2 separate regions of the Homo sapiens genome follow, and region 2 is linked to region 1. The links come from fine-mapping of genetic effects on gene expression. A gene starts in region 1. The other region holds a variant in brackets. All regions are shown on one strand. Distances are between the middles of the regions.

Region 1 (16,685 bases):
ACACTCCCCCTAACTACCTGCTAACCAAGTCTCCGTTCGGGTTACATCTGCCCCGTGGCAAGGACCACATTTCACACAAGACACAGAGCCAGACACAAATTCAGGGTTTCGACAAAAAAAAATATTGAATCTTGTTTATCTGCTCCATAATTCTCCATCTGCTGTGCTCATGGCCAAATGCTCATGTGTGCATTTCTGCCTTTTTGGACCTTAAAAGAAAACAAGCAACAAACCTCCACAACCAGAGAACGATAAGTAGAGGCAGTGTCTGACAAGATTTTCATGTTAAATCAGGAGTAGTCAATCAACAGCTGAACAGTTAAGATTCCGGGGAACAAACCCAACACAGTAGTTAATGCACCACTACTTAGTCACTTTAAGGGAACATAATGAGGTGAGCAGAGTCTCCCAGTTGCGAGTGTACGGAATACATACATTCTGTTGCATTCACTCCGTCCTCACACTTCTGAAGAAAGGCAAGCATTCCAAGCTATGGCTGGAATGTTACCAAGGAGAGGCATCCCAAAAAAGCTTCCAGAGAAGGGCGCCAGCACAGTCCTCAGCAGGGAGTGGTGCCTCTGGGACTAATGCTGCTAAAAGCTACTTTATAGAGAATTGTCAAGGCACAGAATCCCCAGGAGCCATTAGGAAGAAGAGGCTGAGCTATCATTATAACTCTTCCAATACTGAAGTCACATATATGCATACATATGCACCTAGGTACATATGCATACCTATCTACACTCAGGCATGCATGCATAGAGACACATGTTGAGTCATACACAAACCCCTTCTACTTCCCGTGGAATAAAAAAGCAGCTGTTCTCCACATCCCAAAGCCTTGCTATATGGACATCTCTAGCTCAACTGTGCCATGTGGCTACTGAGACATCGCCTTCACAATTATGAATTTAAGCATCATGGGATTTCAAACTAGAACTTCACAGATAACGTGCTTTGCTTCAACTGAAGCTGTGTGTTTGTATGGATATAATTACTGAATGGAATGCATAATGATTCTTGAGCAAGTAATATTTATTTTTTAAATATTATGACTGCTTCTTCTTTTTTTCTCTCCACACTCCCAAAAACATTCCCAGAGAGCACTTTGGCACTCCTTTTTGTTGGAATTTTAATGAGATCCTGCTGTTTTATTTTTCCCCAGGTAAACACTTAACCTAAGAAAAAATATTGGGGAAAAGATATATCTAAATACTATATTATATGATGTTTAAGGCAAAGAATATTCTAATTACAATATTCTTGCTCATAAGTATTAAGGACATATATTCTGTTGTTCATTAATTTGGCAACCATCATAACTTTTGCAGCTTTTGTCTTAACTTAAATAAGGCTTAGAAGCAAAGTCCTACCTGCACAAGAGCAGAGTCCCAAGCCTTGGCATATACAGATATTTCTTTTTAAAGTTTCACACATTTTAGCACTAGCATATATAACACGAGTGCTTTGTGTACAGTAGGGTACAGAGTTGAATAAATACAAAATTGTAACAAGGGTCAAAATTGAGAAAAACAAATAGTGGTAGGAAAAAAGGAGATTCAGATACCATGAAATCATTGATCATCATCCCCTAAAGAAATTTAAATTCCTAAGAGAGGTATGCAGTCTTTTTAGCTTCAATTGCTAGAATTTTCTTAGCATGCTTAGCAGCTGCAAAATGATTGTCAGTGCTGCAGATATTGGTGCAGTGCCTCTGGTAGATTCAGAAGACAGAAGGACACTTCCTGGGCCAAATTTACCAAAAGCACAAGTGGGATTTGTTGTTCAGATGGGACCTGTCCTTGCCTTCAAAATCACCAACAACTAGCCCCCTACTACCTTTCCAGGAGTGTTGACGGCTGCCTTCTAGAGGTGAATGTCTGCCAAGCTGATGACACTTGACCCCTCTAAGATAGAAATGGGGAACAGAAAGACCCCTTGATCTTATAAATTTTGTAGCTGAACTTGCTAACCCTTGGAACTGAAATCTAATCAGCCGAAAGCCACTTTCTCTACCCACATCCCCTATCGGCACATCCAATAAAATATTCTGTTTTTATTCTCACCCTGAAAACAAACTGGGAAAATACCAGACTTCCAAAAATAAAATGCTAAATCAAATATGTACTAGGGATAGTTATTCTCAAACTTTGAAGTAGAGTCAAAATTCCACTAGGGGGAGCAAGATGGTAATTTGTTACCTGGGAGGTAAAAGCAAAGGTTCAGGATGTGTAATTAAGGAAGTAAGGTAATTGAAAAATCCACTTCATTAAAAACATAAAAGAACTCAAGCTTCTGAAAGAGTTCTTAGTCATAAGTAAACATGCACACCATGCACATACTAAAACAAACAAACAAAAAAACACCAAACACAAAAAATTCCTATTGATCCCTGAGGATCCAGGTTTTAGAAATAAGAATAAAACTATCTAAAACCTACGTGCTAAGGTATCATTTTCATCATCTGTGAAATCCAATTCAATTATTATGTCAATTCCATGAAAAAAATATGCTACTGATGTCATCAGACACACCCTCCATTTAAGAATGAAGCCCATCATGGGTTCTACAAAGAGAGCCAAGCTAGTTTAGAGTATCCACTCCATCCGGCTATGAAGTCATCAATGCCCTCCCACATCCCGCAAAATCCCCTAATGAAACCACCATTTTGATTTTTGCTAAAACCACTGTATAGTATATTTCACTTTCCCTTTGCCAGAGTTGCATGCTCTGTACTAATGAATTGGCTTTGGAAGATAGGCAGAGTGACAGAGGCTGTCATTGAGCATTGGTAACTACAGTCAATGGTAATAAGCCCAAGCAGCATCCAGGGATGCTCCAGCATTTCATTCTAGATCCTGGTGTGTTGCTTGTGTTTTTCTGATTAGATCGGGAAAATAAAGACTCCAAGTCTAAAAGAAAAACATTTTGCATTCCAATCAGAAATGGGTGTTGGGAATCAATCAATAGCCAAGAAGGAAAATTTGATATTCCTAAACATCTGTCCCTCCTTGAGCATTCTGAGTACATATGTCATTAAAGTAAGATGGGAGTGTGTTATCAGTAGCTGATAGCTGATACAGCAATAATCTAGCCATATGAAGCCATCAACTTATATGAACAAGCTGAAACACTTCGTTAGGTAACAACTGTTTTTTGTAGGAGCCAGTGCTTGCACTTTTGTGAAAGGATAATAAAAATTTGTTCAAGTCACTAGATTTAATGAACAAAACCTGCTAACTGAATTCATGTGAGTTCTGCTGTATGATCTCCTGCAAGGATTTCATTGAGTTCTTCCTGAATATAGATCACCCTTTACTTGAGAAGTTCACTCCATCCCAGAAAGATAATGATTATCATAAAATCAAAATCTGTTCCTCTTAAGTACCATAAGGACAATACAAAAATATACTGAGTCCTTATAAATACATTTTTTAAAAAATCAGGGAGTGAGGCAGGACTGCATGTCTGAAAATGTCTCCTACAGGCTATGCTGCAGAGTAAATATATATAATATTTTCCATTACTATTAAAAACAGAAAAAACATAAAATTCCATGTTATAGTCATGCCCTCCAAGTAGCATATTTGTTAACTCTATATTTAACATTATGAAAAAAGAATTACATCTAATTAGAAAATGGAGAAAATTAATTTATTACCTAATCTTTTCCCAATGAAAATAACACATGGGTACTGACTATGAAATAGTTACTCAAGGACCAACTACCCCAATTACCCAATTTTTGGAACATTTAATCCTTTGTTGCTCCTTCCTTTCCTGAGATTCTCTTTGGGTGTTTCTCTGCTCTTTAATACCACTAGTTATCACCCTCACCCGATGGCCAACCCAAAGTAAAACAAAATTCAACTTTGTTACCAGTTACAGACAAAAAGTTGGGCCAAAGGAAGTGATGGAATAACAGTATCAGTTAAATTGAAATCTGGAGGCAATGTTAATTTTTATTGATTAAAATGTTAATTTTTATTGACCTCCTTTTTTTCCATAGTAGAAAGATTAATGCTATGGTATCAGACTGACCAATTATTAAATCCAATCCATTTCCGTTTCAGTTTTCTCATCTCTAAGATGGGGTTACAATAGCCATTTTATAGATGTGTTTAAAAAATAACGTAACGGCCAGGCGCGGTGGCTCACACCTGTAATCCCAGCACTTTGGGAGGCCGAGGAGGGTGGATCACGAGGTCAGGAGATCGAGACCATCCTGGCTAACACGGTGAAACCCCGTCTCTACTAAAAATACAAAAAAAACTTAGCCGGGCCTGGTGGCGGTCGCCCGTAGTCCCAGCTGCTCAGGAGGCTGAGGCAGGAGAATGGCGTGAACCCGGGAGGCAGAGCTTGCAGTGAGCCGAGATCGCGCCACTGCACTCCAGCCTGGGCAACAGAGAGGGACTCCATCTCAAAAAATAAATAAATACATAAATAAATAATAAAAAATAACACAACATATGCAACACCCCCAGCACGGGGCCAGATGCCTGGTGTGCACGCAATAAAAACAGGGATGATTGTTTACCTTAACAAGCTCAAAAACCTTCATAGACAAGTACCTTTATGTGCATCCTAAAAAAGGAAAAATAAGAGATCTTGAAAGATTTCCTAAAATACTACAGAGTAAATAAATTGAGTTAGGATTATAACCCACTCAACACCACCTCTAAAGCAGAGGGGCCCATCATATTGGGAGAGAAGCTTTTACAGGCCTGGGAGCAAAAATCAAACTGAGCATGACTTGGCCTTTGTTACACTCAGCAACCTCGAAATTGTCACACAGTCCCTCTGTACTCAGAAGTCTAATCTATAAAGCCAATAACTCACTGAACTAATACATCATTTCTTCTTGACTAATCAAAAGGTAACTGCATATATTCATGCCAGCTTAATGGGACCTGAGATTGTAATTTTACTACTTAAGGTTGTCATAAATACATGTAGTTACACCTTTCTTTTGTGATCTCCTGATAGACACAAAGGAAATGAATTCCCTGTTTGGAGCTGTGACGAAGTCTAATGATTTGCCTGTTAGTGACAAAGTTGAGACTAGAACTTAGTTTTCCTGATTCTCGCAGCTTGGTACTTTCTCTCACATGTAATATAATATATATATAATTCATGATCAGAATTCAGCTTCAGTTTCAACATACCTCCTATGGAGAAATATTATACACTAAGGAAAAAGCTGCCATATATGAGATACATTCTCTCTATACGTATGCATATATATTTACACAAATAGTGGCCAAATGCATATACATAGATAGATAGATAGATATAGATATAATTCCTTGCAACAAAATGGCTAACAATAAAATAATCTTACCAAAAGACAGAAAACAAAGGGCTACAGTCTTTCAAAGTTGAGGGGGCTCCGCATGGGTCTGAGTTATAAAGATGAAGAAGGTAGGCACTAAGCAGAATTTTGAAGGATGAGACTGGGGACTGGAGAGTAAATCTTTCATGTTGGAAAATAATAGAAGATGAAGTTAGAAAAATGAATAACTGGGTGGGGGGAGCATCACATCAGCATAAGAAGCTTTAACCTAATCTTTTTGGTGCAATCATATAGCTCATTACCACCTCAAACTCTTGGGCTCAAGCGATGCTCCCACCTCAGCCTCCCAAGTAATTCAGACTATGGGCACAGGCCACTGTTAAACCTGGTGAATTTTTAATATTTTTTTGTGGAGACAGGGTCTCGCTATGTTGCCCAGGCTGCTCTTGAACCCCTGGCCTCAAGCAATTCTTCTGCCTCAGCCTCCCAAAGAGCTGGGATTACAGTCATGAGCACTGTACCCAGCCTTTACCTAATCTTATGGACAAACAGGAATGGGGGTCATGAGCAGGAGAAAGGAATAGAGTTTTCCCAAGAATTTAATCTGGCCAAAGTGTACACTGAGTACTGGAGAAGGAGAGATTGGAGTTAGAGGCCCAGTTAGAAGGCTGTTGCTACAATCCAAGCCATCACAGGAAAGAACTTTCCCATCTTTTTTTTAATCACAGTCTCCCCAGGTGCTACTTACAGGGATACGGTGAAAACAACAGATATAGTTTTTGGTTCTTTAATGTCTGCTCTATTCCTGGATGCAATTTTGGCCCAGCATCTTGGCCACTTTCCTTCACTCTTTATATATAGCCCAAATCCCTTGCCTCCGAAACACTAATGTTTCCAGGTGAAACTGAGGTTACTTCCTTTAGTTCTGGAACATTTCCATTTTTTCCCCCACAGAACCTCTGCGGATGTAAGCTCTGTTTTGTCAGACTTGTCACTTGATCGCTGAATTTAAATCATAACATTTCAAAAATAGGCCACATCCATAAAGAGAAAGGCAAATCAAAACAAGGCAGACAGCCTTTGCCAAGTGCCATATTTCTATCAGGATCTGCTGCCAACTACCCACAGATTTTTTCACTCTGTCTAGTTTCAAATGGCTTGAGATCAAACCTAAACTTTAGCTAAGATAATTAAATTGTGTTGGGGAGTTAACTTTTAAAGAAAGCTAATTTGGGCAAAAAGGACAATGGATCCAGGAGGTTAGTTCATACAGAACATTTAAATCCATGTAATTTTAGTGAAACAAAAAGAACAACTATATATACTTCTGCAACAGTTTCCTGTTTTGAAAAATTGGTATAGAGGTTTTATTTCTCATCTTGGCTTGGGTTACATTCTTTGTATAACTGTATCTTACTGCATATTGAATTCATGTAGTTGCAAACATGAGAGGTGGATTTAATAATGTTAATCAATATAAACCACTTTAGTGATCTTTGTGGGGAAAAAAGAAAAATGGCCAGAAGATGATTTTCAGGGTTGTAGGTATATTCAGTATAATTTATTTGTCTGTTCAAATAGAGACAGCAGTTCAGTTTTAGGGTGCACTGGAAAACATGACTTTTTATTACTACCTGGTATGTGCATCACTTATAAAAAAGACAACAATAAAAAAGTATTCCTTATAAAAAATAGCAGAAAATGATCCATAACTACAGAAGTATCTTCTTGTGGTCATGAGTAATTTTAATTTTTGAGAATCTCACAAATTGGAAGCTAAATAAAGCAATTCAAGTGTCCTTTAAAAACAACAACAAAATCAGCATGTAGAAATGAAAGGTACTCTCAGAAAGGTGGCAATCTCCTGCTACATTTGAGGAGGCTGGAACTACTGTATACAAGATATATGGATTAACTCAGTCACATTAAATCATTCATGATTTAGGCAACTCCAGATTGGGTTTGTCTAAAATCTGTTAGCACCTGGGTTCTTTCCAAACACCAGCAAGCAATTTTTACACAATCAGGTCTTTCCAAAGCCCATGACAATTTTCCTTTAAACCCTCTCCTTCCCTTCTACTGTTCTTTTCTTTGAATTCCACGTGCATTCTTGGAAAGACAGCAAGCAGTTAAACTCTCACCACCTCTCCACAGGTGAGGGACTAGGGACATGTGTAAAACGGAGTCACCTTCCTGTTCTGGCCATTGTCAATTTTTTTTTTCCTAAGGCATCTTGTTATAGCAACCATTCTAAAATTGTTATAGCAACCATTCTAAAATTTAAGGCAGTGGGTTGATCAGGACCTGAATTAGTTTCTGCCTGAGATGACTGGAAGGTCCCCTACTCCCTCCCCAGCCAGAAAAAGTCACATGGAATGAAAATCTATTAGAGAATCCCCTCAGTGTAGTCTTTCAGGAAGCATCTTCTCATTTCCCCATCCAAAATCATGGTAAGGACATCCAGTGACAGATGTCAAAGGGAAAGGATAAGGCAGCAGGAAGAGAGAGGAGCCTAAGAGACTGGAAAACATTCGATAATATAAAATGGGAAAATGGGAAATTCTGCAAAAAAAAAGAAGTCATATCATATTTCCTTTCACAGACACCAACCCAGTGCGTAGCTCCTTTATTTCTTTACACACTACCCCCTCCAACAGGGGATAAAAGATATGTTTTCTAAAACTTAATTTGGTACATTTCAGATAACCACATTCAATTCAACAAAGATGTATTAAGCATAAGACATTTACTGAGCATAAGAAATTCAGACACTGGAGGCCGGGCGCAGTAGCTCATGCTTGTAATCCCAACACTTTGGGAGACCAAGGCAGGCGGATCACTTGAATCCAGGAGTTCCAGACCAGCCTAGACACATGGTGAAACCACATCTCCACTAAAAATGCAAAAATTAGCTGGGCACGGTGGCGCACACCTGTAGTCCCAGCGACTCGGGAGGCTGAGGTGGGAGAACCAACTGAGCCCAGGAAATTGAGGCTGCAGTGAGCCATGCTCACACCATTGCACTCCAGCCTGGGTGACAGAGTGAAATCCTGTCTCAAAAAAAAAAAAAAAAAAAAAGAAAGAAAGAAACACAGAAAAAGAAAAAGAAAGAAAGAAATTCAGACACTGGAATGTCAGAGTCAGTCTCTCCCTTGATGAGGTTACCAAGGTGTAACAGGAAGTATACAAATACGCACAGCTAGAATGTAAGGCACAGGCCGCAGGAGAAGTGCATGGAGAAGGGAGAGAAATTGTACCTGGCCTCCTGAAAGACGCAGCCTCTGAAATGAATATTGAAGACTGGGGAGGATTTAAACAGGTAGAGACGGATGGAATGGTAAGGGACTTTCCCTTCTTCATATTCAGAAGGCTGTGAGCAGAAGCTAGGGAGCCTGAACATACACAGGGAACAGTTTCATTTGGCTGGAGGAGGGGAGAAGTGAGGTAAGCTGAGTAGTAGACAGGGATCCTATCATGGAAGGTCTTGAATACCAAGCTAAGAAATTTGAGCTCTCTTCTGTGGAACTGGGGGAGCAGTGGGTGGTTTTTGAGCAGGGGAGTGACCTAAGATTTGTGCTTTAGAACAATCACTCTAAAAATGGATTGTATGATGACCTGGAGGAAAAGGCTGGAGTGTCATAACAAGTTAGGAAACTGCAATAATAGTCTGCACAAAGGGCTCTGGGGATGGAGTACCGCTCAGTTGTCAGAGGAAGCATTCTTCTGGTGGTAATATGTGAATCTAAAAGGTAAATTTGACCGGGCATGGTGGCTCACGTCTGTAATCCCAGCACTTTGGGAGGCCGAGGCAGGTGGATCACCTGAGGCCAGGAGTTTGAGACCAGCCTGGCCAACATGGTGAAACCCCGTCTCTACTAAAAATACAAAAAATTAGCCAGGCATGGTGGCGTGCCCCTGTAATCCCAGCTACTCGGGAGGCTGAAGCAGGTGAATCGCTTGAGCCCGGGAGGTGGAGGTTGCAGTGAGCTGAAATCGTGCTACTGCACTCCAGCCTGGGCGACAGCAAGACTCCATCTCGAAAAATAAAAAATAAAATAAAATAAAATAAAATGTAAATCTAGCTCCACCTTTAATGTAGCAAGGGCTAGCCTCCTCAGGAGTGGCTGCCTACATTCAAAACGATTCTCACCAACTTCTTCCACAGGACACAGGGCTCGGGAGCAGCGCCAGCCCGACATCGGCGGAGGAGCACCGGAAGTTCTGCAGCACTGGCTTTCTTTGCTCTTCCACCTATGCAAGCTCCTTCTCTCTTGTGGCTTGCCGAGCCTGGTTAGCTCTGAGACCGGAAGTTCTGAAGTCAGCTGGCATCCTACATCTGTGCAACCTACTTCTCTCCCCATCCCACCACAGAAACCAGAGCCTCGAGGCTTTTGGCTTGGGTGCTGCCTTCACAGTTTAGGTTTTGGTAAGAAGAAAGCTTATCTTCATGTCATGAGAAAGAAAAAAAAATGTATCTTTACGTAACGAGCTGAAAGAACAAAACAAGTATACCTAAGCCAAGTACATGCTATCTTTATTTCTTTATTTCCACACTGAAATTTAGTCAGGGATAAAACTTACTTTTTTAATCACACGAAGTTTGAAAAATAGGAAGTACTATGGGAAACACCTAATGCATCAAAACCCCTGTGCATTTTATCTTTGTCTTATGTTTGCTGGATTTTAATCTTAGTAGGTTTCCTGTTGCAACAATACAAAAACAGATAAAGAAAAAACTTAATAACCTTTCCTACCACAAATGTGAACAGCCCGTGTTCTTGTTGGTAGGTACAGATACAGATATATGAGATTATCGTTATTTATTATCAGAAAATGGGATTTTACTATTTCCCACACACACACTTTTTTTGAGATGGGGGTCTTGCTATATTGTCCAGGGTGGTCTCAAATTCTTGGGTTCAAGCGATCCTCCCACCCAAGTATCTGTAATCCAAGTAGTCTGGATTACAGATGCATACCACCATGCCTGGCTTATTTCCCTCTCTTACAATTTGCAAAAATAATGATGTACTGAGGACATCCCCCAGGTCGATAGCTACAGGATTAAATCATTTCTCTTAATAACTATATATAATACTATTCCATTGTATGGATATGCCATAACATATTCAATTATTCCCCTTCGAATGGGCATTTGGGTTGTTTCTAGTTTGTACCACAACAAACAAGCCTCTATCAGTGCTTATCCACATTGCACAGAGAAGTGCTACCAGAGCCAAAAGCATTTTCTGAGTACCTACAATATGCTATTTTTATGAAATATACAAAAGAAATGTGTGACATAGTCCTTTCCTAAAAGACTGCCAAATATAGTTGGGGAAATAAGCCTAACCCACACAAAACACTTAAACTGTGTAAGACAGTACTGAACCATGTTCTACAGACCTCATGCAAATGGATGCCAAGTTGTCCTTCTGCACAATGACAGATTGGAGAGGTAATCTGGAGGTGCCTTTAGCCATAATATTCTAGGAGCCTTCTTGATTCAGAAAAGGGGAAGCATGAAAGGCTAAGAAGCCAGAGTGGTGTCTCTGGAGGAGGCAGGACTTGAACAAGGCCTGAACATGGTTTAGATGGAGGAAGGAAAAAAATGTATTTTGGAATGACAAATGAGGCAGGGCACAGCACTGACTTTAGACATGTATATGCTCAGGAGAATGTCCTGAGTTACAGCATTTCTAAACACCCTCTTCTCATACTCCTCCCACCACCACCACTCGCCAGACTCTGCTTAAAGATATAAAAAATTCCCAAGCTTGGCTGCTGCAGAACATCACACTAACACTAATTTAAAATGCACTACTTCCAGACAGCACGAGCTTGAAATTACCTCCAAATCTCTTCCTTCCCTGTCCTTCTCATGCCCTATGCTACCCCCTGCCAAAACACATACAACGCTTGCTGTGCCCTTCAAACAACAGTAGTCATTTAAGCTGCTCCTGCCCATCTGGAAAATAATATGAATAACATGAAAGAAAGCAATAATGAAGTGACTGGAATTTAGCAACCAAAAAGACCTCAGTTCTTTTGATAATCAAAAACTTTGTTAAAATGTTTACATCGACAGTCACTACAGTGTTGGTCTTTCACTCTATGTTGCAATAGTATGTTTGCAACTTCTCCAAATCCATTTAAATGAAAATATTTAATAACAAGTTTTAAATTTTATCAATTGTTAAATATGATTTGAAAGTTTAGTGTATGTCCTGATATATAGTATGCCTTGAGACTGAATATAAGTAGCTCTATGGGAAAATTCTGAAAATGAATTAGGAATAAGTAGATTAATGTGCTTTTAGTCTCAAAGACTAGAGATTAAAAAGGCATGGGTAATTTTTAACTGAGAGGTGGTGCCACAGAGAAGTCTATGATTCTCTCTTTTTCATTACCCATCCCAGTTTAAAATTAGCTTGCAGCATGTTTTTTAAACATTAGGAAAACAAGATGCACTCCCAGAATGTTCATGTGAAGGGCACGTGTGAAGACATAATCTTGACAGTCATATTACAGAAAATAAGGGAGTGAGTTACTGAGTTTTTAACAAGGAGAGTAAGTTACTGAGTTTAAATAAAACCTAATTTGCTGTGTGTTTTTATTTAGCAGAATTTTGAATGCCCGTTGCCTCCGTGGCACTAGGCAACCACAAAGGCAACTGAGGTCTGAGACAAGGCATCAGGGAGATAGGATCCTTTGGCCTCCTCTGGCCCAACTGACATAACTGAGGTTGGTTCCTTTCCTGGTATCCACACTCCCCTCTCCTCACCAACAATCCCCCTGACGTTGGCTCTGAATGATGTGGAGACCCTGTTAGTGTCGTCGCATGTTAAATCTAGATTTGGGAATCTGCACTGCACACCTTATGTCAAAACTCAGAGCTGTTGTTTTTATATTTTGTTTTTGTGTTTTGTGTTTTTATTTCAGATGCAGGGGATACATGTGCAGGTTTGTTACACAGGTATACTGTGTGATGCTAAGGTTTGGGCTTCTAATGATCCCATCGCCCAAGTAGTGAACATAGTGCCCCATAGGTAGTTTTTAATCTCTTGCCCTCCTCCCATCCTGCCCCCTTTTGGGATTCACAGTGTTTACTATTCCCATCTTTGTGTCCTTGTGTACCCAATGCTCAGCTCCCACTTGTAAGAACATTCATAGCCACTGTTACCTCATCACCATGTAACATTCCAAGGGTTTAAAATGCACAATACAATCATAGTTCTTTTGAGATCATGGTTGACTGTCCTGACAAAGGAGAACTTTTAGCTGCCCCTCCTCCACCCAGGGATAGAAGTGGACTTGGTGAAAGGCAGGTGGCCTGTGACAGCAGTGGCCTGCCCAGGCACGCAGAGGCTTGCTCTCACTTTTAGAGTACTTGGTACATTTGGCACTGTGCAGCAACTTTTTGCTTCTTGAATTGTGACCAATCAAAAATGATGAAACAAGGCCATTGAAGGGAGTGGAAAGAAATTAACTGATGCGCCAGGAGTCCTGGTCTACCCTTGATCAGTAGGTGTTACATAACGGAGGGCAAGTCACAGAGCAGGCAGAAACCTCTGTTTTCTTACCAGAAAAGATAGGTCCAAAATGATCGACTCCTCCAAGAACAATAAGGGAAAAGATGAGATTTCAGATGGAAAAAAAAAAAACCCAATAAGGGGTGGTCTAGGTGACTATAATCTCACTCTGCCAGAAGAGCTAGACGACCAAGCTTGATGCACACAGCAGGGGAAGTAGCAGGACCAAGCTGCTCAGAACTGGTCAGAGTAGTGGACAATTTCGTGCAGATCTTACAGGCCTCTTTTTTGTTTTTTGTTTGTTTTAAGATAGGGTCTTGCTCTGTCCCCCAGGCTGGAGTGCAGTGGCATAACCACAGTTCACTGCAAGCTCGACCTCCCTGGGGTCAGGTGAGCCTCCCCCATCAGCCTCCCAAATAGCTGGGACTACAGGTGTGCACCACCACACCCAGCTAATTTTTCTAAAAAATTTTTGTAGAGAGGGGGTCTCGTCATGTTGGACAGGCTGGTCTTGAACTCCTGGGCTCAAGTGATCCACCCGCCTTAGCCTCCTAAAGTGCTGGGATTACAGGTGTGAGCCACCACGCCTGGCCTTTTTTTTTTTTAAGACCTAAATGGATGCAGAAGAAATTTGGCTGATGTTTTTTGGCTGGATTGCATATCAAAATCCCCTGGGAAACTAGGTCCCACCCCAATAAGCCTGAGGTAGTGTTAGGGATGCAAATCCTAGCACAAGCGCTTGCAAAGGCTCTCCAGGTGACTCATACAGCTTCAACATACATGCAGCACTGAATCTGATTCTTCATCTCAATACCTTCGAAATCCTACTCCTTTGACCCCACAGTCCCTCTTCAGGGAGGCTGTCCTATAGAAATAATGAGATATACAGACAATTTTTGTATAAAGATGTTCATAACAACACTATTTATGACAGGAAAAATTAAAAGGGAACCAATGTCAAAGCTAGGGAAATTATTGAGCAAGTTATAATATATAAACCAAAAAAGATATACAAATGGCCAAAAAGCACATGAAAAGATGCTTAACATCAGTCTTTAGAGAATATAAATCTCTAAGAACTACTTCACCATTTCTGGTGTGTGTGAGATACCATTTCACACACACTAGATGGCTAAAACAAAACAAACAAACGAAACCCAGAAAACAGTGTTGGGAAGAATGTGAAGAAATTGGAACATTGCTGATTGGAATGTATAATAGTGCAGCTGCTGTGGAATTTTATTTAGCTATTTAGCTTGGTAGTTCCTCAATAAGTTAAACATGGAATTACCATATAATTCAGAAATTCCACTGCTATGTGTATATCCCAAAGAACTGAAAATAGGTGTTGAAGCAAAAACGTGTACCTAAATGTCCACAGCAGTACTATTCACAACAGTCAAAAGGTAGAAACAACCCAAGTGTCCACCAACCGGCATCAACTGATGAATGGATAAACCAAATGTGGTACAGCCGTAGAGTAAAATATTACTCAGCCATGAAAAGGAACAGCGTATAATGATAGATGCTACAACATGGATGAACCTTGGAAACATTATGCTAAGTGCAAGAAGCCAGACACAAAAGGCCACAGGCTGTATGATTCCATTTATATGAAATAGCCACACATAGAAACAGAAAGCTGATTAGCAGTTACCAGGGATCGGGAGGGAACGGGAAGTGACTGCTTCATGGATACAGAGTTTCATTTGGGGTGGTGAAAATGTTCTGGAATTAGTAATAATGGCTGCACAACACTGTGAATGTACCTTTTAAAATGGTTAAAATGGTAAATATCATGTTAGGTGTATTTTGCCACAATAAAAAAAATTATGATACATAAAACAGAATATTTTACTTATTAAAATTGGCCTTTTGAGGGAGTTTAATGAGATGAGGAAAATGTGGAAAAAAAGCAGTCTATGAAACTATATACAGTTTGATCTCAGCTTCATAGCATATAAATATGCACAGAAAAACAAGGACTAGAAGAAAATTTATAAAAATGCTAAACAGGGTTATTGGCAGATACACTTTCTTTTTTTGTAATTTCCAAATTTTCTATAATATTATGTTTATTATTATTGTTAACTATCATTTTTGTAAACATAAAAAGAAAAATTTTCTTTAAAGATGGGACCACTGACACTTTGCATCACAGCTAGGAAAAGAAAATGAGAATAACGAAGGGTCTGGAAACATGTGACATAATGATTCAGGTAGGGGGCTAGACAAGAGCATAGAGTGGTGAAGGCTGCAACAATCTGGAGAATTTATGTCCTGTCCAAAGATAAAATTGTGGCTCCAGATCTTTTGAGTTTTCAAGAGATGCCAGAGCTCCAGACGTTTCAGTGAAATGCCCTGATTTTTAAATGTTGGCAACTTATTCAATATTTTTCAAACACCACAGGCCAAACAAAACACATCTGTGGACCGGATGTAGCCCGCAGGCTCCAGTTAGCAAATTCTAGTTTATAAGAACAGGAATGTTTAGGCTGGAAAAGAAAAACCTTTGAAGGGATATAGTACTAGTAACATCAAGTATCTGAAAAATGACTATGTGGAAGATGGTGTAGGTTAATTCATGTGTCTCTAGAAGGCAGAACCCGATCTAAAGGCTGGGTGTTATCAGAGAAGCAGAATGGGGCACAGTCTATAAGGGAGAGGTCTCTATTAGAGCAGCTGTCCAGCAAGAAACAGCTTCAAAATGCAGCGAGCTGCCCATCCCTGATGTGCTCCAGCAAAGGCTACATAACCAGGATTCCTGCTTTGGGTCAGAAGTTGGACTAGGTCAAAAGCTCCCAATTGTGGCTGCACATTAGAAACTTGAAACAAAGCATACAGACTCCTGGACCCTGTCCCAGAACCACAGAGTAAGGTCCAGGAGTGTGTATTTTTAAAAAGCATCCCCTTTGGGTATATACCCAGTAATAGTATTGCTGGGTCAAATGTTATTTCTGGTTCTAGATGATTTAGAACCACTTAATCTTTGACTGTAACACTGGAATTCTAGTATTCTGATCCATGGTTTTACCCACCTGGCCAGTAAGGAAGGGAAGGAGGGATTGAGGAAAGGAAGAACAATGTACCAGAGCTCATTATGGAGCAGGCCCTGTGCTGCTTTCCTTATGTCATCTCACTGTATTTTTCAGAACAACCTGGTGAGTTGCGAAGTGATGTCCTCCACCCCATTTCCCTGAGAAAGAAACTGGGGCTTGGGGAGTTTGGGGATGGCCCAAGGTGACTGCCAGTCACTGGGAAGATCTTTCCAGCTCCAGATCCCATGCTAGTTCAACTATGCCATATTGCCCTCTTCTTGCCCACTCAACAATCATTTCTCCAAGTGCCGATGGTGGGCCAGGCAATGCATTAGGTGGCAAGGATTCTGCAATGATCAAGATACAGTCCCAGGCTCAAGAAGCTTCGAATCTAGAGAGGAGGAAGAAAAGTAAACAGTGACATCACGGTGGAAGCAACAGGGTCATATGGGAGGGACACCCAACCCAGCCTTGTGTCATCAGGGAAGGCTTCAGAGAGGAGGTGACAGCTAAGCTGGGGAAAAGAGATTCCTAGGTGAAGGTGTAACATCTACAGAGACCCAAAGATCAGAGGGAGCCTAAGCCTACCAGGTGTGGGGAAATGTGACTAGTTCAGAGGCTGGAGTGTGGGATGCAAGGAGTGAAATTGTAAGGTGGGGCTGGCCACGCTGAGACTTTGTCACTAACCTCAGAGAAACAGGAAGCAAGTAAGACTGAACAGAAGGGGGTGACATATGCAGATGCACATTTTAGTAGCTCAGACTGGCTGCGGAGAGGAGAATGGATTGGCGGAGAGAACACAAGGGAGGCTGTGGCAGTCAT
Region 2 (16,685 bases), 120 kb after region 1:
TACAAAAAATTAGCCAGGCGTGGTGGCATGCACCTGTAGTTCCAGCTACTTGGGAGGCTGAGTCACGAGAGTCGCTTGAACCCAGGAGGCAGAGGTTGCACTGAGCCAATGACGCGCCATTGCACTCCAGCCTGGGCAACAAAGCAAGACTCTGTCAAAAAGAAAAAAAAAGAAAAGGAAAGAAAAATACATTCGAGAGAGAACGTCAGAAAAACTCTCTAGTAGCTGGATATGATGGTGGGAGATGCTTTCGTTGAGATGGCTCCTTGATTTTTATATTAGTGGGATCCTGCGACAGCAATGGCCAAGTGGCAGCACTTAGCTGGCAGAGACAAGGTGGACACATTTACTGTAATGGACAGCAGAGACAAAGTAGTACTTAAAGGTCTTAACCTACAGGTATATCTGGCAGTGCCCTAGGTTGTCCTAGGAATGAAATAGACGGGCAGACTTTGGAAATAGCCATTGATCTTTATAACAGACAAAACTCTACATCTGCCACCTGAAAGCTCCCTTGAGCCATCAAAATGAAATTATCTTTCATTCAGTTTCCGTACCTAAATGAGTTCACAGACACAGAGCTCCTTGATTAAAAGGGAAGCTGGTCCCCTTCAGGAGGGTCTTGCAGCATTGTCATAAATATATACTACAAATCCTCATCCAAGCCTTATCCAAAGGAACCTGATGTATTTTTCTAGGCTGAGCGAGTACTGGGAAAAAGGAAATACCCAGACATTTGAGGGATCACTGACACTGCTTCTGAATTAATGCTAATTCCTGAGGATTGCAAACACCACTGGATCCACCAATCAAAATGGGGATCTATGGTAGGTGATAAATGAAATTTTTAACTAAGTATAAATCAGTGTGGATCCAGTAGCTCTGCAGACCCAAACTATAGTTATCTCCTCAACTGTTAGTTAGAATAGACATACTCAGTAACTAACAGAATCCTAACATCATTTCTCTGACCCACAGAGTGAAGTTTATTATGGTAAGACAGGCCAAATGGAAGCCTCTGGAATTTCCTCTTGATACCAGAATAGAAAACCAACAACAATGCTCAATCCCTGGAAATATGTAGAAATTGGTACCACCAGAAAAGACGTAGAAGATACAGGAATGATAATACTGTCACATCTCCATTTAACTCACCTGTTGGGCCTATGCAAAAGATCTTAGAGAATAACTATGATTTGTTATTAAGTTGTAAACTTAATCAAATGGTAATGTCAGTTGCAGCTGCTATTCTATATATGCTGTCTTTACCGCAACAAAGCAACTCAGCCCTAGGCACCTGGTGTGCACTATTGATATGGCAAATGCTTTTTATCTATTTCAATTTTCACCAAAAGTTGTTTTCTTTTATATGGCAAGATCAACAGTACACCTTTACAGTCTTCTCTAGGGGATGTAAACACTCCCACTCTCTGGCATAATCTCATCTGCACAGGTCTTGATCACTATGTTAAAGACATCGAGCTGACTGGCCCTGATAAACAGGAAGTAACAAATATTTTAGCTGCCTTAACAACACACATGTGAGCCAGAGATTGGGTATAAACCCCAAGAAAATTCATCACCTTAGTGAAGTTTCTGGAGGTCCAGTGGTCTAGAAAACACCAGGATATTCTCCCCAACGTAAAAGACAAATTACTTCACCTTGTACCATCTACCACTAAGAAAAGAGACACAATACTTTCTGGGTATCCTTGGATTTTAGAGGCAATATGTATCACATCTGAGTGTGATGCTGTGACCCATTTATAGAGCAACCCATAAGGCTGGAATTTTTTATTAGGAATAAGGGGAGAAGAAATATCTGTAGCAGGACTTGATGACCCAGAGGAATCCAATGATACTTAAAGTGTCTGTGGCAAATAAGGATGCTATATAGAGCCTCTGGTGAGCCCTGATTAGATCTACAATGCAGAATTCCTTAGTTGTAGAGCAAGTCATGCCCTCTTCTGCAGATAACAATTTTCTATTTGAGGAATGGTCCCTAGCTTGCTAAGTGAATTTGAATGACTGGCCATGAGACAATCAAGTGACTGCAAGCTCAGCTGCCCATTATGAACTGAGTGTAATCTAATCTACCAATCCATAAGACCAGACATACACAAGAGGAATTCCTCATCAAATGGAAATGGTATGTAAGAGACTGAGCTTAAGCAGGTCCAGAAAGCACAAGTTGCCTTAGCAGGTAGCTCAGATTCCTTTGATACTTACTCCTGGTGCCTCCTTATCTTCAACTTCATGGGGAATTTCTTAAGACCAGTTAACTGATTTACAGACAGTTCTCCTAAATATACTGGCACAAGCTGGAAGTGGTCTATTCCAGCATCACAGTCTCAATAAGGAATGCCCCCGATGACAGTACTGAAGGGAAATTTTCTCAGTGCAAGAAATTTCCAGCAGCGCACCTAGGGTCTACTTTGTCTGGATTGAGAGAGACGGTCAAAGGTATAGATCTACACTCATTCACAGGCAATTATTGATGGTTTTGCTGAATGGTCAGCAACTTGGAAAGATGAGGTGGTCCGGGAAAGAGGTTTGTGGGTGCACCTTTCAGAATAGGCACAAAGTGTGAGGAATTTGTGTGCCATGTGAATGCTCACCACAGAGCATCTACTCTGAGAAGGCTTTTAGTAATTAGGTGAATGACACATTCGGTGGAGTGGGCCTCTTTCTCCACCTATTGCAGTGCTTGCTCAAAGTAGCCATGGAGTCAGGAATAAAGACTATGTTTGGGCTTCAAATCTTAGGCTTCTCTGCAGTAAGGCTGATATCTGACAACATCAGAAATCACACATTGAGAGGCACCATTTCCAAGGGAGACTAGTCAGCCATGTGGTAGCAAATTGATTATTTTGGAACCCTTCCTTCATGGAGGGAACAGTTACTTGTCTTCACTAGAGTAGACACATATTGTGGATATGAATTTGTTTTCTTTTCCTTTCTTGTTTTTTTTTTTTTTTTCAGGTAGGGTCTTGCTCTGTTGCCCAGGCTGGAGTGCAGTGGCGTGATCTCAGCTCACTGCAATCACTGCCTCCCAGATTCAAGCGATTCTCGCACCTCAGCATCCTGCATAGCTGGGATCACAGGAGTGTGCCACTACGCCCAGCTAATTTTTGTACTTTTAGTAGAGACAGGGTTTCATCATGTTGACTAGGCTGGTCTCAACCCCTGGCCTCAAGTGATCCACCCATCTCAGCCTCCCAAAGTGCTAGGATTATAGGTGTAAGCCTCCATGCCCAGCTGATATGGATTTGTGCCCAGCGAGTGTTTCTTTTCTTTTTGGAGATGGAGTCTGGCTCTGTTGCCCAGGCTGGAGTGCAGTAGCATGATCTCGGCTCATTGCAACCTCCACCTCCGGGGTTCAAGTGATTCTCCTGCCTCAGCCTCCAAAGTAGCTGGAACTACAGGCATGCGCCACCACACCTGGCTAATTTTTACATTTTTAGTAGAGATGGGGTTTCACCATGTTGACCAGGCTGGTCTCAGAACTCCTCACCTTAGGTAATCTGCCTGCTCCGCCTCCCAAAGTGCGGGAATTACAGGCATAAGCCACCATGCCCGGCCCAGAGAGTGTTTCTGACAGAACTACCATCCATGACTTATGTTGTATCTTACTCACTGTTATATAGTCTACACAATATTACTTCTTTCTGAGGAACTCATCTCATGGCAAAAGAAATGCAGCAAAGGACTCATGTAAATGGAATTTACCAGTCTTATCAATACCTCATCAGCCAGAAGCAGCTCACCTGGAAGGATGATGGAGTTCTACTGAAGACTGAGTTCCAGCACCAGCTGGGAAACACCACACTAACATAGTGAAGTTACCTCTTGGAGGACACAGAAAATGCTTTGAGTCAGGAGTCAGTACATAGTACTGCTTCCCCCAAAATACAAGGTCCAAGAATCAAGGGTGGGGCTGGGAGGGAGAAGGGAGTGGTGGTTGTAGTAGAAGTGGTTCTTTTCATCATTACACCCAATAATCCACTCATACAGTTTTTGCTTCCAGTGCCTGTTTTGCTTTGAGCTCTGCTGGTTTGGGGGTGTTGCTTCCCAAGGGAGGGTTCCCACCAGGGATCACAATTATGGTTTCATTGAATTAGAAGCTAAGACTGGGATGTGTCCACTTTCGGTTCCACATGCTATGGAAACAACAGGAAAAGCAGGGGTTACCTTTCTGGGTGGGGTTACTGATTCCCATTATCAAGAGGAAATTGGTTTGCTACAACACAGTGGGAACAGGGAGGACGATGGGGACAGGGAGGACGATTGGGACAGGAAGGACTATGTTCTGGATTTTCTGTGGTACCCCTTAGCACTTCCATATCCTATAATAAAAGTTGATGGAAGCTACTATAATTTTTTAAAAGGATTAAAAAATGGATTCAGACCCTTCAGGAGTGAAGATATGAAGAGAAGAAAAGGGCCTCTCTTCCAAGCTTTTCGTTCTAATAACTAACCTTTTCCCATTGTTCCCAGCCCTACTGGTGGTAGCTGCTTCTTAAAGTTACTATCTCTGTGTTCCCTTTTTGTTTTTTCAGTCCTCTAACACCTATTTAAACAATTCCCCATATTAAACAGGACTATTTAAGCAATTCCTCATATTAACCCTTTTCTTGTTTAGAAACAAAAGTATAGCTGACTGGGCATGGTGGCTCATTCTTGTAATCCCAGCATTTTAGGAGGCCGAGGCGGGTGGACCACTTGGGGTCAGGAGTTCAAGACCAGCCTGGCTAACATGGTGAAACCCCATGTCTACTAAAAATACAAAAAAAAAAAAAAAAAAAAAAAATTAGCTGGGCGTGGTGGTATGCACCTGTAATCCCAGTTACTAGGGAAGCTGAGGCGGGAGAATCGTTTGAATCCAGGAGGCAGAGGTTGTGGTGAGCCGAGATCGCACCATTGCACTCTGGCCTGGGCAACAAGGGCAAAACTCCATCTCAACAACAACAACAAAACAAACAAACAAAAAAAAAAAAGTATAGCTCACTGCCTGCACTCATTTGATTTTACATAAACACGCCCTTTGAGGTTGAAGCAAATCTGATTTTCAATGTGAAAATAAAATCTAAAAACTGTTCTTGGAGTTATTTCTAAACAGAACTAACATCAAAATCATCTATTTCAGAAAAATCAGATTCATCAAGTGACTCTTCAGTCAACAACTGTTCAAGAACGCTGTTAACATCACGTGTAGGAATGCTACGTTTTCTAGAATTTGACATTTTCAGCAATCGAGAATTACTATATTTTGTAAACAGAAATGCCACTACTAGAAACAGAATGCTATAAATAGAATGACGTCTTTTGTTTTCAAGGTCAATATGTCAGAGCGATGCAAAAATAATAAAAGTGAGATATTTCATGGCAAAGTTATCTCAGGGTAAACATTGCATCCACAAGCGCTGCTGGCGCATATTCTCGGGGCAAACGGGAAAGGGTTATTTCTGTTAAAATAATGTAGGTTGAGCCAGGTGCAGTGCTCACACTTGTAATCCCAGCACTTTGGGAGGCTGAGGCTGGCGGATCACTTGAGGTCAAGAGTTCAAGACCAGCCTGGTCAACATGGTGAAACCCCATCTCTACTAAAAATACAAAAATTAGCTCCGTGTGGTGGTGGGCACCTGTAATCCCAGCTACTTGGGAGGCTGAGGCAGGAGAATCGTTTGAACCTGGGAGGTGGAGGTTGCGGTGAGCAGAGATCATGACATTGCACTCCAGCCTGGGTAACAGAGCAAGACTCCATCTCAAAAAATAATAATAATGTAGATTGTTTTCCTGACTAGATCCTGACTGATACCACAACACAGTTACATTCCTAGAATGAAAAAAATCTAAACTAAACTAAAACATTGTGTTTATATGTAAAACGGGTTAAGTTCCAGGCTAAGATAATTGCAGACAGATTTTTACCTACATGAATATCCAGTGGGACATTTGAAAGACCACTTTCCAGGACAGCTAGCATCTTTAATTTCCAATCAATAGATGCTTGGGCATTCCATTCTTTGTGACAACCAAATATGTTCTCTCAAATTTCAAAAACATTCCCTAAAGAGCAAGGCCGAGAACTGTGTACTGTAGTGACCATAGCCTATGACTTTACTAAATCTACCCAATATACCATATCACATTTCGCTATGGTTGTTTTATTTACTTGATGTATGCTTTTTTAAATTTTATAAATATAAATGTGCACGTAAATGTGTGTGTATATCTGTATATCTGTGTTTGTATTTTATATGTTTATATAAAACATATGTATTAGTCCATTCTCATGCTGCTATAAAGGACTGCCCGTGACTGGGTAGTTTATAAAGAAAAGAGATTTAATTGACTCACAGTTCCACATGGCTGGGGAGTCCTCACAATCATGGCAGAAGACAAAAGAGGAGCAAAGTCATGTTTTACATGGTGGCAGGGAAGAGAGCTTGTGTAGGGCAACTCCCCTTTATAAAACCATCAGCTCTCATGAGACATATTATCCACTATCATGAGAACAGCATGGGAAAGACCCACCCCCATGATTGAATTACCTCCCACCAGGTCCCTCCCACGATAAGAGGAAATTATAAGAGCTACAATTTAAGATGAGATTTTGGTGGGGACACACCCAAACCATATCAACATATAAACTTATGAATACACAGTATTTCACTGTCGTGGATGCTGTAGTGTGCCACCCAGTTCCCACATTCAGGACCAAAGGCTTTATGCCCCCAACTGCAGAGAGTGTTGCCTGCTGATAGCTTGAAGCTGATTCTTCCTTCAGGAATTACCCTCAGTCAGAAGCAACCACCTCACCTCATTACAGTCCCTCCCTTGAAACTATTCATATCCAGTGAATTTGAGAGTACAAAGGCCCAGCCCCTTTTGCCTCAACTAAGGACATCTCCGAAAGCACATCTTAGCTCCAACACTCCCTCTGGGATCTGCTGGGGCCTGTGCTGCAAATGCATCACAGATCAACTTCTCCTTCTACCCAGTCCTGCTCTCCTCATCCCCACCAGGGTTGTGCCTGAAAACATTCCCCAGTAAATAACCTGCATACAATTCTCCATCTCAGAGACTGTTGCCTGGAGAACCCAACCCAATATAATTATATATTTTGGCTTCACACTAGTGGCTTAGATAGTTCATCCTGTTTGTAAATAAATCAGAGCCATCTCCCTGACCTGGGTGCAAACCACAAGTAGAGGCAGATAATGATGATTGCTGCATGAGGTTAAATCCTGATGAGGCTCTGCACTCTCTTCACACGGAGACTTTTCTATTTTGAA[A/AC]TATTGTGCCCCTTGACTGAATGGCTAAGTTACAGAAGATCCACAGATGTCTTAGGGGTATCAAATGACCTTCACAAAACAAAACCAAGGGCCTATCAATCTAGGCTAAGGAAATTAGAACATTTCCTCAATGTAATTTTTATTAACGTATATCTGTAAGCACTGTTTATTTCTGCACCTACAATGGTTCCTGGATTCTAAACAGTCATGGAGTTTAAGTTTGTAAAATTGGTTTAAAAACAACTTTTCAGAGAGCAGAAGATGAAATTTTTCACTCCATGAAATATCCCATATTCTATGAGCCAGCACATGTAAAGCACACATAACGGAACCTGGTACAAAGTAAATGCAAGATGAAATACACCATACTCTGTGAGTCAGCACATGTAAAGCGCATGTAACAGAACCTGGTACAAAGTAAGTGCAAGATGAATGTTAGCTATTATATCTATGATATTAAAATGTGAAAAGATGACACCTTAGAATTGAAGAAATACGGTTTTTTAAATCAATATTATAAAGTTACTTTTAGTGTTGATTTGTTGAAATTTATTATCTTTATCCCAGGGAATGCCTTCCTTGGCTCTTGATCCTTATTTTCCTTGACCTGCTAACAAACTTATAAACAGTATCATTCGATTAAATATTTCATTGTTTTATTTGCTATTGATCATCTATTCTCTTTGTTTTATGGGTGTTAGCCTTCCATAATTTCACATGCTTTGTTTTTTATATGTGTTGTTTTTCTCATTATAAACTTCTAATGGGTACTAGACATGCCTTACACTTCTTTGCATGAATTCGATAAATAATGACAAACTGCTTGATTTTAAAAGCATGCAATTGGAGGCAATATTAGCTGGCAATTCTATTCAATATATACTAAGTTTTTCTGTGAATGCCTACTTGTAATCTCACCTCCTACAGAAAGTATAAAAACCAACAACAGAAAAAACAATTGAGAAATAGAACAAGTAGAAGGAGTAAGTTAGCCAGGCACAGTGGCTCACATTTGTAATCCCAGCACTTTGGGAGGCTAAGGTGGGAGGATCACTTGAGCTCAGGAACTTGAGACCAGCCTGGGCAACATGGTGAGACTCCATCTTTACCAAAAATACAAAACTTAGCAGGGCTTGGTGCAGTCCCAGCTACTTGGGAGGCTGAGGTGGGAGGATGGTTTGAGCCCAATAGGTGGAGGCTGCAGTGAACTATGATCATGCCATTGCACTCCAGCCTGGGCAACAGAACCAGACCCTGCCTCAAAAAAGAAAAAAAAAAAAAAAGAAGTAAGTTATTACAGTGCCTCCTCTGAGGCATTGCTGAAATGAATATTGTGTTTGTTCTGTATTAAAACTTCTGCATTTTACTGTGGTTTTAAAAATGTTATTCCATTTATTTTTAACTTCTTCAGACAGCTGTCCTGGAAAAAATAAAACAGTGGAAGGTGAGAAAGTAAGATTCACCATAGAATACAAAGGGATAAAGGAGGGAGGAAAGAAGAGAAGCTGCAAAGAAATGTAGATGGAAGCACCAAGCTCCTTTAAAAGAGAGAAAAACCCTGACTGGGCATTTTAGCATGCAATTATGGTCCTTAAACTTCACCAGGACACTGTAGAGTCTCAGCAACCATTCTCAACCTTCCTGCAGAAAATTGATAGCCCAAATTCACATTTTTTTATTTTATTTTATTTTTGAGACGAAGTCTCACTCTTGTCGCCCAGGCTGGAGTGCAGTGGTACAATCTTGGCTCACTGCAACCTCCGCCTTCTGGGTTCAAGTGATTCTCCTGCCTCAGCTTCCCAAGTAGCTGGGTTTATAGGTGTGCACCACCATGCCCAGCTAATTTTTGTATTTTTGGTAGAGACAGGGTTTCACCATGTTGGCCAGGCTGGTCTCAAATTTCTGTCCTCAAGTGATCTGCCCACCTCGGCCTCCCAAAGTGCTTGGATTATAGGCATGACCCACCGCACCAGGCCCAAATTCACAAAATTTAAATGCCCCTCTTTCTTCTCCTTCACAGCCAAACTTCTCAAAATAAATGTCTCTTTTTTTCTGATCTCCACTTCCTCACCTCCTCCGCCACTCCACAGGGTGCCCCTGAGCCCACTGTCCTGAAACCACAATGACTCTGATCAGTTCCACACAGGTCCATGCTGACAACACTCTGTCTTAGACCCTCATTGTTTCTCCCGACCTCCAGTCCCACCAAGCTGCCTGCTTCTCTCTCGGATGTCTCAAAATCACCTCATACTCAGCATGTCCAAAACAAAAATTAATAATCTTCCTCCTCCAGTGTTCCCCCCTCCTCGGTAAATGACACCACCCTGGACCCAGTGTTGATCTAAGAACAAATGCTGGGGCTCACACTTGGTATCTCCGTTTCCCTCTCATCTCTCACATCCTGCCAGTTACCGAGTCTTGTCAATCCACGTTCTTTAAATCTCTTGAATCTGTCCCTAACTCTGATCTTCCTGGACCTCACTCCAGGCCAGTCTCATGTTTATCTACTGATTGGAAGGCTGATAAGCATTGGTTTCTTCTGATCTATTCTCCACCCCACAGGCAGAACAATCTTCTGAAAGACAAGCCTAATCAAGCCACAACCCCTCCAATGGCTTTCCATTGCCTTCAGCCTGTTTACAAACACCTCAGCATGCATGATGTTCAGAGTCCTCACATTCCCCACCCATCATTCTTCTTGCAGAGAAGCCACATTGCTCAACTCTGGGGGATGCCATTCCCAGCCTAGTCTGTGAATGATAACTGCTGGAGTAGTGCAGTGCACAATCTGTGTGCCTAAACAGGGCAACCTTGCCTCCGTGTCACACTTTATACACTGTGCTGAAAGCAGCTCCCCGATGCATATTTCTTCTCTCTCTGAGCCTTTGCATATTGCTGTTTCCTGTTTATACTTTTACCCACCTCGATATCATTTTCTTCTGGTTAATCTTGTACTTCAGATCTCAGTTTAGATATCACTAACCCCATGAATTTTCCCTTACTCACTTCACCTCCCAAGTTTGGATTAGGAGTATCCCTAAGGTTTATGTTTAGTGCCCTCTGCTTAACCCCTATTATTGTATTTATCCCTTCATCCTATAATTGCCGGATTACTTTTCTGTCTCCCTCTTTTAGGGCATGGACTGTGTTTAATCCACCTTGATGTTTCTAGTTCATTGTATAGTATCTGGCACATAGTAGATACAGAGCAAATACTTTTGAATGAATGTAACTTTGAGTAAATAATTTAATCTCATCAAACCTTAGTTTACTACTAGTCAAATGAGGCTAAGGATGCCTGTCCTCAATACCGTGGAGAATCATATAATAAAATGTATATGAAAATGCTTTGAAAAATGGAAAGAAATACGTAAATGAGAGAGAAGGAGACTGAACAATTGGTATGGCATTATGATAATGAGAAAGTGACAAGGAATGAGATGATTTTCTGCAGAGAGAAGCAAGAGAGACACATTTCCACCCTATCATGTATAAGAACTAATGCCTGTGCTGCTGAAGTGAGTGCAAATTCTGCATCTTATTTCTGAACTAGGATGAGAAGCCAGAATGTTTCAAAAGGTGGGAAATGAGGAATGTAGTAATCAAGCTACAACTTCCGCTTATTAATTGGTCACACAACCAGTGCTGTATATTGATTTATATGTCATATACATAATATATATCAATTTTGTCACACATATTAAGATATATATGTTATTAAGATCAAGTTTCTGATATTTGTTCATTTATTTAATTAATTAATTTTTGTAAAAAAGACCAAGTTGCTGAAAATGGTGAACGAGGGGCTCAGATAGTCAAAGAATAAACACAGCCCTTCTTCCTTGGGCATCAGTTGGATTTAATGATTCGGGGAATTAAGTCACTTAACTTGGTAGGTAACTTGAAGCAGTATTTTCATATTTACATAAGCAAACAGATATAGTATGGCATGGAGTGTAACATTTGCATACATCTTTTAAATCAACCTGAGACCCCACGCATTTTGTGTTTGCAATGGACCTCTCCACACTATCTCCCTCCAATCCACCCCTCACCAAACCTTCACACTCCCAAGCTCTAGGAATAAGTCTTTATTCACTTATGCTCTTTGAGGGCCTAGGAAAAGTTTAATAAGTGTTGCTTTTAGAAGTTTGGTGACCTTCTATGCTGCTGAAATGAAACAAAAACAGAAACCTGGCTCAGGAACTCTCACAAATGTGGCTGGTACACTTATATCCAGGGTCAAGTTTATAGTTGATTATTAATTTGTGGGTCTGCTTTCTGTTCCTAGCTTACCCATTAAACTGTTGAACAATTTTGTAAATATTGGTCACTGGTCCCCAGAAGAATCAAAAATTTCTAAATATAGAGGAATTAGTGCTAACTGTCCACAAGAAAATAATTCCTTTTGTTTTGTTTTGTTTTGTTGAGACAGGGTCTCACTCTGTCACCCAGGCTGGAGTGCAGTGGTGCAATCTCAGCTCACTGCAACCTCCACCTCCCATATTCAAGCAATTCTCCTGACTCAGCCTCCCAAGTAGCTGAGACTACACTACAGGAGCCCGCATCAAGCCTGGCCATCAAGACTAATTTTTGTAGTTTTTTGTAGAGATGGGGTTTCACCATGTTGGCCAGGCTGGTCTTGAACTCTTGACCTCAAGTGATCCACCTGCCTTGGCATCCCAAAGTGCTGGGATTACAGGCATGAGCCACCCCACCTGGCCAGAAAGGAATGCTAAATTCATAATTCCTTGCTGTTAGGACACAGTGGCATCATAATCTTTGTATATAACGGTCAACACATTATATCTAAAGGAAGGAGAGGGGCCGGGCGCAGTGGCTCACGCCTGTAATCCCAGCACTTTGGGAAGCTGAGTTGGGCGGATCACGAGGTCAGGAGATCGAGACCATCCTGGATAACACGGTGAAACCCCGTCTCTACTAAAAATACAAAAAAATAGCCGGGCGTGGTGGCAGCTGCCTGTAGTCCCAGCTACTCAGGAGGCTGAGGCAGGAGAATGGCGTGAACCCGGGAGATGGAGTTTGCAGTGAGCCGAGATCATGCCACTGCACTCCAGCCTGGGCGACAGAGCGAGACTCCGTCTCAAAAAAATAAATAAATAAATAAAGGAAGGAGAGAAGGGAACTAACATTTATTGAGTCTCTACTATGTGCCATCCACAGTGCTAGGTGCTGTAAATTCCTCACCATCTCTCCCTCACCACCCCAGACACAGTTAATCCTTTGTACAATGTCTATACCTGATATAAGCACTTCTATTGGACTTTCCACTTTAAACAACAATGAGTTGTCTGTTTCCCACTCTAGTGTAGACTCTTCGAGGGCCAGGCTCATTTTAAATTCACCTTTTTATCCCAAACATACACCATACCTGATCACATAATACATCTTCAGTTAAAATTTTTATTAGCTAAACAAAAGTTACCTCTTCCAATGTTTAGGACATTGTGAAGAAGCTAGTGCATTCTTCATTCTCCAAAAGTCAGCTGCTCATTCTAAATCATCTTATACAGTTCTGTCCATTAAGGAAATGTAGAACATAGCATTATGTCAGTTTTTTGCTGTTTTCAGGTCTTGGAATATTTCCAAGTCTCTCTCCTGACCCCCAGCCAAAAAAAAAAAAAAAAAAATCATAGACTCAATCTATAACATACACTGCCATTGTTTGAATGTGTCTCCTTCAAACTTCATGTTGAAACTTAATTCCCATTGTAGTGGTATTAAGAGGTGGGGCATTTTAGGAAGTGATTAAGTTGTGTGGGCTGTACCCTCATGAATGGATTGGTGCCTTGTAAAAGAGCTGGAAGGAGCTAGTTTAGGTCTTTTCTTGCCCTTCAGCCTTCTGCCATGTGAGGACATGGTATCGCCCCATCTGCCATGGGAGAATGCAGCAAGAAGGCCCTTACCAAACAACAAATGGCTGCATCTTGCCCTTGGACTCCCCAACTTCCAGAACTGTAAGAAATCAATTTCTATTGTTTACACATTACCCCATGCAAACAGCTAAAATGTGTACCATACACACTTTTTGTTTTCTTTACAAAGCACCTTTTTCAATAACATAATAGGTACTCTGTGAAATACATTTTTTTTTTTGAGACCGAATCTCTCTCTGTTGCCCAGGCTGGAGTGCAATGGTGCGATCTCAGCTCACTGCAACCTCTGCCTCCTGGGTTCAAGCAATTCTCTTGTCTCAGCCTCCCAAGCAGCTGAGACTACAGGTGCACGTCACCACGCCCGGCTAATTTTTGTATTTTTAGTAGAGACAGGGTTTCACCATATTGATCAGGCTGGTCTCGAACTCCTGACGTTAGGTGATCCACCTGCTTCAGCCTCCCAAAGTGTTGGGATTACAGACGTGAGCCACTGTGCTCAGCCAAAATAAGTCTCTAAAGTAAATTATTAAGTGTAAATGTCCCCAGTTTCAGTGGCTTTAACCAATGACAGACAACAAGACTGAAATCACACTGCTTATAGAGGATTAAATATCCTCTGATTCTGAAATACCAAGTCTGAACTTCTGAGTCTGTAACCACAAGATGATTTTTCTTCCTCCCCAAATTTAAAGTAATCAAAACATGGAAATTTCTTCCTCTCATCATTGCACTTTAGAGTGTATGAGAAGTGTGTACCATATACATACACATACACACACATGAGCATAGAAGAGGAAAAATAATTAGAAAGTAGGGGACTAGTCAACACTCTGATTTAGAACCAGCTCAACTTTATGATTTCAAAAGTTTTGAACCTAATCCAACTCCTCTGAAATTCAAAGTTACTTGACATTTGGTATATTGTGACTTCCTGTTTTTGTAAAAGAACATTTTCAAAAATGGTTCAATGAGCTCTTTGGACAGTCTCTAACTCCTATAATGCAAGATTTGGAACATTTGGTGGTAAGTAAATAAGGAACATATGCAATATATTTTTTAAGATGTGCATATTTTCCAAAACTCAGGGGGAAAAATACTTGGCCAAGTCTATCTGTGGTTTCATTGAATACTTGAAAATTAGTTAATGACATTCAGAGACACAAAGATACAGCTGGGTTTTTCCATCCAGTCTGTGGAACATGTAGCTGTCAACCAGCAATGATAGAACCCATAGGAAAGCACCCTCAATTTCTGTAGAAACAGGAAAGAATTAAGATTTACTGTCTGGCACTTTGGTGGTTGGATGTAGCATTTGCAAGGAAATTAAGAACAAAGCAAAAGAGTCCCGAAATGTGCTTGCATGTTTCACATTTACTCTTTCTCTGCTGTGTAACTGCCAGTGCATGGCCCATGGTGAAAAATAAGCTGGCAAATATAAAATCCACCAAATAGTCTCTGGTAAGTCTTTAGGAGTACTGCAAGGTCTACAATAGATCTTACTGACATGCAAAAACTTTAAGTGAAAAAACTCTTAGAATGCTGCAGGTAGGGATATGGAGCCCTAATTCCTCAAGCCCCAAGAGCCTAAGGTTACATTAACAATTAAACCCAAATATGTTCCTGGCTATGAGCTCCCTACCTCCACTCCAGACCCTAAGTGATGCTAGAAAGTCATAAGGGTGTCTCACAAGTGTTGAGGAATAAATCAACACTAGGAACTGCTACTCTCCCTCAGGGATTTGCTGGGAACCTACTGAGTCTGCTGAGCCCCTGCAACCCCTTGCCATCCCGTTGTCTTGCCACTGTTCTGCTGAAGCTCAGAGAAAAGATATTCTCTTCATAATAGTCATCAGTGCTGCCAAACCTGTAAAAATCTTTGATATGCTGAGTGACATTGCTAACCCTTCAGGCCACATAGGGCCAATGCTATGCGCTGGTCCATGCAGAAATGTGGATACCATAGTCTCTCTAGAGAATTCATACCTACTGCATGGGTCTGAAGCGATGGAGACCAAGCAGTATACTGTCCTCGCACTTCCCTCTCTCTCATCTCTGAATGTAGGAACGATCTTGCAGACTTTCCTGTGGTGTACTGTGAATTGACACCACTTAACCAGTTTCAGCTCAGACACAGTCAGAAACATCCTCTATAGTTATTGTCAAGAAGTTCATTTTAATTTGATAACTTTATGTGGTTAAATAGATGTCAAATTGCCAAAGCATGGAAGAGAAAGGAAATTAGAAAACCAGAAGAAAAATACAAATAGATATTATTCGTTCTAATGATTTTTCATACTATAATACACAATGGTCAAAGAATCAAAAGAAAAACATGCGATCCAATAGGTGTTCGATAGGTATCAAAAAAGCATTTGATAAACTCAGCATTCATTGATAATTAAGAAACAACTTTTAAAGGTAAATGTAGAAAAATAGAGAACAACTTCCTTAATTTGATATTTGGTATTTACCAAAAATTGAAAGCAAACCTGTTACTTCATGGTGAAAAGTTAGAAGCATTTTCTTTAAAGTCAGGAACAAAGCTAGGAGGCCAGCTTTCACTACATTTTTTTTTTTTTTTTTTTTGAAGCAGAGTTTCACTCTTGTTGCCTAAGCTGGAGTGTAATGGCGCCATCTTGGCTCACTGCAACCTCTGCCTCCTGGGTTCAAGCAATTCTCCTGCCTCAGCCTCCCAAGTAGCTGGGATTACAGGCGCATGCCACCACACCCACCTAATTTTTTTTTTTTTTTGAATTTTTAGTAGAAACAGGGTTTCACCATGTTAGCCAGGCTGGTCTCAAACTCTTGAGCTTAGGTGATGTGCCCTCCTCGGCCTCCCAAAGTGCTGGGATTACAGGTGTGAGCCACCATGTCTGGTCTGCTATCACTACTTCTACTCAACATTCCTCAAAAGAAGTAAGCTAGCATAAGGTCTGGAAAGGAAAAAACAAAAGTGTCATTAATCATAGACAATATAATAGTTTACAAAACAATCTAAGAGAATTAACATATAAGTCATTAGCACTAGTAAGACAGTTCAGCCAGGTTGCTCAATATAAAACACATATACAAAAATTAGTAGTGCTCCCATACACCAGGTGGCAGCCTTTTTTTTTTTTAACTATAAAGAGCCAAAGAGCAAATATTTTAGATTTTGCAGGCCACATGATCTCTATCTTAACTATTCAACTCTGCCATTGTAGTGCAAAAGCAGCCACTGACAATATGTAAACAAATGGGCATGGCTGTGTTTCAATAACATCGGGAGCAGGCTAGATTTTGCCCATAGTTTGCCATAGTTTGCAACTCCTGTTATACGTCATTGATGAAAAACTAGATAACATAATTTTTTTGCTTTTTATAATTTTTTATTGACTTATGCTAACCACTAAGGTTAGGGGATAGGAAACATACTTGAAAAAGAAAAGATACCATTTACTATAGCAACCCAAACTAGAAGGTACCTATGAATAAATCTAACAAAATTTAT

What was found. PIP is the estimated chance that this variant, and not a neighbour inherited with it, causes the effect.
Region 2: its variant is fine-mapped to the expression of ANKRD44-AS1 in whole blood (INTERVAL, PIP above 0.99).

What each region holds. Positions count from the first base shown.
Region 1 is chr2:197,189,460-197,206,144 of GRCh38, forward strand. ANKRD44-AS1 (ANKRD44 antisense RNA 1) reads left to right here and starts at 8,532. Exons shown (of 2, transcript NR_135584.1): 1 at 8,532-8,630; 2 at 9,459-9,814. All of the region lies in intron 1 of ANKRD44 (ankyrin repeat domain 44), which reads right to left. RefSeq lists enhancers at 9,578-9,647, 16,280-16,469.
Region 2 is chr2:197,313,491-197,330,175 of GRCh38, forward strand. It overlaps ANKRD44-DT (ANKRD44 divergent transcript), which reads left to right. Exons shown (of 4, transcript XR_923750.3): 2 at 699-827; 3 at 979-994; 4 at 5,147-5,390. Among named protein-coding and RNA genes, the nearest start is that of ANKRD44-DT, 11 kb to the left of the region's middle. The variant A/AC (reference allele first, on the strand shown) is at 7,299.